Homo sapiens: one gene and its partner. The protein of the gene in region 1 purifies or fractionates together with the protein of each later gene. This does not show direct contact. Each region holds a gene or a part of one and is shown in the gene's direction. Other genes may lie near its edges. The genes, in order: ANXA13 and NMT2.

Region 1 (2,876 bases):
AGACTCTCCTTCCCGAACTCTGCTCCTCTCCCCTGCTTATAAGCATCAATCACACAGACAGTCCCCTAGACAACAACAGCCCCATTATGGGACATAGTAAGATTGCACATTCCACATTTATGCTGAAATAATCACTTACTGTTAATCACTAACATCATCAAGTGTTCTAGAGAAATGTTAACAGCCTAAAGGGCAAATATTTTTTTTTTCCTCTAACGTGTTAGCCATGATGGATTCATATGAGCCTGGGAAGAGGGGAAGGAATGATTTATTCCCAGGAGAAGAGATGCACCCTGTCACCTGCTTGATGAATAGAGACCACGCTTCATTAAGCTGTAGATAGATCAAAGCTGGAAGGCAAGGGGAAGCCAGGAAAGAGCAAATAGCAGCATCGTAGGAAAGTGATCTTTAAAAAGGATCAAACATTTCATCAAGTCCACATCCCGGATTGCAAACCAAAAGATCGTGGGGAACCTGGAAAAGGTTCAGAGATGAGGCTTGCAAAACAACCCCAGTGAGGAAAAACAAAGAGTAGGGAGGTTGTTGAGCATAGGAGAGCAGGCGGCTGTCCAACTGGATACATTGTCAAGATGATGAAGTTTTGTTCCAGAAGGTTGCTGGCCAATCTGTTTCCCTTCAGAACCCTAGGACAGCACCAGAGATTTCACTCGATAGGGAAAGTTATTTCTGCTGGGAAATAACGAGAATCATGGACGTGGCCGGGAGGGCCCGAGGATGCCACAGCTCTCCTCTAGAGGGTCTTCAGGGGACAGGAGGGGAGCTATGCTTGAAGATTCCAGGTGCTCTGACCAGGGAATCTTCCAAATCTCATTTCGCAACGGTGTCAAGTCAGCTCTTTTCACACCTCTGTCTCACCATCCAGTCAGCTCGAAGGGCAGCCAGGTGACATTTAGGGGGGTCCCAAGGTCATTCCACAAAACGTGAAAGCCTCACATTCTCTTTTCCTTTGTCCTGCCCAGTGAGATGTGCCCAGGATTGTGAGGACTATTTTGCTGAACGTCTGTACAAGTCGATGAAGGGTGCGGGGACCGATGAGGAGACGTTGATTCGCATAGTCGTGACCAGGGCCGAGGTAAGACACACTCCGACTCCAAAGAGGCGGCTGCAACTTCTCTTTTTTCCACCACTGATGTCATCAACAAATAGTTTCTATTAAGGGCCTATTTACAGAAAAAGTAAAACAGAGACGGCCCCTTGCCTTCCCAGAATTTGCAGAAGACATTGTGCTCTGCTTCAATCTGTTTCTTTTTATAAAAATACAATAATGATCGTTGCTTCTTTTTTTGTCCTCTGTGGCTCTGGAGAGCTAGTGGAGGGGCGCAGAGGCAACCATGTCGAGCAGTTCTCAGGGGCTGCAGCTATGCATGGCTCCATGTTAAGGAAGACAAAACAAACACACTTGAAAGAGGTCAACCAGCAGCAGGAACAAAAAGAGAATGATTTCTGAATTCCTGAGTGAGGCCTTTCCTTAACTGAACACACTGCAGAAGCAAGCACATCAGCATAAGGCAATGGTTCTCAATCTTTTTAAAAACTATTGCTGTTCTAAGGAACCTTTTTAGACACGTGTTTCTTCATTGCCATCCCTTCCCCACAAGAAATGTTAACACCAGAGATAATACTACAAATCTGTTTATATACCATGTGGATATCAGTGCTTTATACATAAAAAAATTAAGGGCTTTTTCACCCCCTAAAAACCAATTTGTGCTTGCTCTCGGAGAATGTGTATGTATAAGAAAGAAAAGGGAGAGGAAGAGCCAACGGCTTGGGAGCAGCCGTCAAGATCACAGCTGGTCGGGTGCAATGGCTCATGCCTGTAATCCCAGCACTTTGGGAGGCCGAGGTGGGTGGATCGCCTGAGGTCAGGAGTTCGAGACCGGCCTGGCCAACATGGTGAAACCCCGTCACTACTAAAAATACAAAAATTAGCTGGGCATGGTGGCACACACTTGTAGTCCCAGCTACTCAGGAGGCTGAGGCATGAGAATTGCTTGAACCCAGAAGGTGGAGGTTGCAGTGAGCCAAGATGGTGCCACTACACTCCAGTCTGAGTAACAGAGCGAGACTCGGTCTCAAAAAAAAAAAAAAAAAAAAGGTCACAGCTAACAGTTCGGGATATGGGGCCACAGACAGAAGGTGGTACAAAATAAAGGGGAAGTGGCATTTCATCGGCAGCAGGAGAAGCCTTGGGGAATGAAGTGGAACTAAGCACTTGAAAACCACAGACATCTTCCCTCAAAAAAAAAAAAAAAAAGTGGTTAAATGAAGGGGGAGGTGAAGGGGGAGGGACACCAACCCAAATTCTGATCCATGGCTTCTTAACAAATAATGCTTAACATCTGACACTGTTTTTAAATATAACTTTGCAACAAGATGGTTCTTGCTTTTTTATTTCTATTCCTGGAATTTCTCCTCCCCTCCTTTCTCCTCCTCCACAACTCATCTTTTTCTATTGAAGGCCATGTCTCTCTCTCTCCCCTCTTTCCCTTTGCCAGTCTCTCTGCTCTGCTCCTGCCATGCCTCTGCCTCTCTCCTCCATGGCTCCAAATCCCTCTCCCTCCTTTCTCTCCAGGTCTTCTGCCTTGTCCGTCCCTCTGTCTGTTAGCAACTCGACCTCCAGCCAAAGTCACTGAGAGATGAGAGATCTTGAGGGACTCAAAAGGGACAGGTTGAACACAATGAAGACCCAGGATTCCAAATGACCCCCAGAGAGACTGGATCCATCCGAAGGGCTTGTGAGGGTTCCGTGATCACTCCGACATGGCCCACGGAGTGTTTTATTCCAAGAAGCTCTGTCCCATCTCAGAATCAACCACACGTCCTGGGCCATCTCAACATGTGGGCAGTTACCT
Region 2 (3,826 bases), on another chromosome or scaffold:
CTAGAAGAAATTGAGAATTGGTGTTAATTCTTTAAATGTTTGTTAGAATTCTCCAGTTGAAATGATCTGAGCTTAGCTGTTTCTTTTTTGGGAGTTTTTAAATAATGGACTAAATGTCTTTAATGGTTATAGCACTATTCAGATGATCTGTTTCATCTTGGTTGAGTTTTAATAGTTTTTGAGGAGTTCATCCATTTCTTCTAAATTGTTGAATGTATGAGTGTAATTAATGTTCATTTTATTCCCTTGTTATCCTTTTAGTGGCTGTGGGATCTGTACTGATATCTCTTCTTTCATACCAGATATTGGTGATTCGTGTCTTCTCTTTCTTTGTTTTTGTCCATATTGGTAGACTTGTATCATTTTATTGATTTGTTTCCCAGAGAACCAGACTTTTGTTGGATATTCCCTGTTGTCTTCCTGTTTTCAGTGTCATTGATTTCTACCCTCGTGTTTATTGTTTCCTTCTGTCTGCTTGCTTTGGGTTTATTTTGCTCTTCTTTTCTAGTTCCTTGAGGGAAGAACTTACTGACTTGAGACCTTTCCCTGTTACTAGTAAGCATTTAGTTCTATCAGTTTCCCTCTCTGCACTGCTTTAGCTATTTCTGACGTATTTTGGTATGTTGTATCTTCGTTGTCATTCACGTCTATGTATTTTTTGGTTTCGTTTGAGGCTTCCTCTTTAGCCCACCCCTACTTAGAATTGTGCTGTTCAATTTTGCTGTGTTTAGAGATTTTCTGTTGTCTCCCTATTACAGATTTCTAGTTTGATTCAATTATGGTTAAAGAACACACACTGTATGGTTTTGATTATTTTAAGGCTCTTGAGGTTTGTTTTATTACTCGGGATATGGACTGTCTTGATGGATATTCCATGGGTGCATGAAACGTGTATACCACTACGGTTGTGTGGAGTGTTCTTTGTATGGCAATTGCATCATGTTGATTAATTGAGTTATTCAGCTCTTCTGTTTCCATGCTGATTTTCTGTCTAGCAGTTCTATCACTTGATGAGAGGGGCATGGAAGTCCCCAGCTGTAATTGTGGATTTGTCTATTTCTCCTTCCAACACTGTCAGTTTTTCTTGATTTCTTCTGGGCCTCTTGTTTGATACTCACATGTATATTAGGGTCTTTGTGTCTCCCTAGTGGATTGATCTTTTTATCATAATGTAATACCTCTCTTTCTAATAATTTTCCTTGCTCTGGAGTATACTTTATTGTATATTACTGTGACCAGACCTGCTTTTAAAAATTGTTTGGACTTTTTCCATCCTTTTACTTTCAAACTATTGATGTTATTGAATTTGAAGTGAGTTTCTTGGAAACAGCCTATAGCTGGGTCATGTTTCTTTACCCACACTACTGATGTTTCTTTTGATTGGTGTATTTAGACCACTTACATAAAAGGTGATTATTGGTATGGTAGAGCTTAAGTCTACCATTTGATTATTTGGTTTCTTTATGTTTCTTCTGGTTCTTGTTCCTCTGTTTCTTTTTTCTTGCCTTGCTGTGGATTACTTGAATATATTTTAGGATACTGTTTTATTTATAGTACCTTTGGGTGTATTTGTATAGTTTTTATGATGGTTGATGTGAGTATTACAATATATATATGTGACTTATAGTCGATTGGTAACAACATTTATTACTTTGAGTCACCTTACTTTTATTTAGGTCACTTTACCTTTTTCATTTTTAAATATTGTTGTCTTAAATATCAGACAGTATTATGATTTTTGTTTTAATCATCAAGTATGATTTGTAACACTGATTAATAATGATGCTTGAGGAGAAGCATAATTTATTATATGTAGCCCAAATTTCTACTCTATTATTCTTCCCTCCTTCCTGATGCTTCAAGATTCCTTCTTTTATTATTTCCTTTCTATTTGAAGAAATTCCTTTAGCCAGTCTCAGGGTATGTCTGCTAGTGACACATTCTTTTGGTTTCCATTTGTGTGAGACTACCTCTGTTTTTAGATTTAGTTTCCCAATTTTTTTTTTTAATTTTTTTTGGAGACAGTGTCTTGCTCTGTCACCCAGGCTGGAGTACAATGGTGCAATCTCTGCTCACTGCAACCTCCGCCTCTTGGGTTCAAGCAATTCTTGTGCTCAGCCTCCTGTGTAGCTGGAACTACAGGCGCATGCCACCACACCCTGCTAATGTTTTGTATTTTAGTAGAGACGGGGTTTCACCACGTTGGCCAGGCTGGTCTCGAACTTCTGAGCTCAGAAAATCCACCCACTTTGGCCTCCCCAAGTGCTGAGATTACAGGCATGAGCCACCATGCCCAGCCCTAGTTTGCTAATATTTTACTTAGGATCTTCTATACTCACTACTGAGGTTGGCCATTAATTTCCCCTTCTTACCCTGTCCTTGTCCTGTCTTGATACCAAAGTTAGAATGAGCTGAAGAGCTTGTCCTCTCTTTTCTCTGGAACAGTGTATGTAATAATAGGGATTACTTGTTCCTTGAAAGTTGTTAGAAGTTGCTTATAAGCCATCTAGACATGGTGCCATGGTGGGTTTTGTTGTGAGCGGGGTTTTTTTGTTTTGTTTTGTTTTGTTTTGTTTTTTATCAGTCTTTACAATTGATTGGGTGTGAGGGACAATGGAAAGATCATCCCACTCTTCCCCAACAGTTGGTGATTCTCTGGTCATTTTAACAGCAAGAGAGGAAACAGTAATTTTACCAGCAATATGAATGTGAAGAAGTAGTTTTCTGAAAGCAGATGATGAAAATGGGGTGGGGAACCTAATCAGGTTCTGCAGGTGCCTGCAGTAATTCAGCGTATGAGATGGATATGAGAAATTCTTAGAAGAATCTAAAATCCTTATTAAACCTGAAGGTTGAATTCATCTCCAATACTGAGCTGCTAATATAGAGCAGTAGGGAATCACTGTAGATTAACCCCTTTAGTTTCTTGCTGGCTGAAGAAAGGTCTAATGACTCGGAAGCCTTTGAAAACCAAAGCATACATCCTTCTGGAATTTCCTTTTCTGCTGAAAGAAATACTAGCAGTGGCATGTGTGTGGTCCAGCCTCTTCAGCCGCACGATTCAAACACATCATATTCTAAAAGTCAGCAAGGCCACCACAGCTAATTACAACAACCCGAACAATACTGGCTAATTTCTTGTATTGGAAGCTTTGCCAGTGATGATGAAATGAATGTCATCCATTGTATCCCTTATTTTTGATAGCTGCAAAATTCTCCAGTTGTTCACATGTGTATATTTTGGTGCAGTAGTAAGACCTTTCACAAGCTTGCGAACTCTTCCAAACAGCTTCCAGACTCTACCCAACCTTACTTAGGCCTGATATAATTCTTTCTGTGTGCTAAGACAGTGTGAGATAGTACACAGTATCTTTTAGTTGGAGAAGGCAGCCCTCTAATCCTTAAAGCTTTTATTTCTGCAAAAACAATGAATCTGCTTTTATCACTGTTCCCTTAGTCTAAAGAATTGACTCATTTGTCAGCCTGAGGGAAGCTTTCCTTTTAGGACATTCTGCTTCTATCTTTCTTTCTTTTTTTTTTTTTTTTTTTTTTTTTTGAGTCTCATCCTGTCGCCCAGGCTGGAGTGCAGTGACACAATCTTGGCTCACTGCAACCTCCGCCTCTGGGGTTCAAGCGATTCTCCAGCCTCAGCCTCCCAAGTAGCTGGGATTACAGGTGTGCGCCACCACACCTGGCTAAGTTTTCATATCTTTAGTAGAGATGGGGTTTCACCATGTTGGTCAGGCTGGTCTCGAACTCCTGACCTCATGATCCACACGCCTCATCCTCCCAAAGTGCTGGGATTACAGGCATGACATTCTGCTTC

What was found.
Region 2: the proteins of ANXA13 (region 1) and NMT2 purify together in Homo sapiens (affinity purification with mass spectrometry; one large-scale study listed by BioGRID and IntAct). This does not show direct contact.

The regions. Positions count from the first base shown.
Region 1 is NC_000008.11:123,682,827-123,685,702, reverse strand, and holds part of ANXA13 (annexin A13), read left to right. Parts: intron 1-980; coding exon 981-1,093; intron 1,094-2,876.
Region 2 is NC_000010.11:15,113,194-15,117,019, reverse strand, and holds part of NMT2 (glycylpeptide N-tetradecanoyltransferase 2), read left to right. Parts: intron 1-3,826.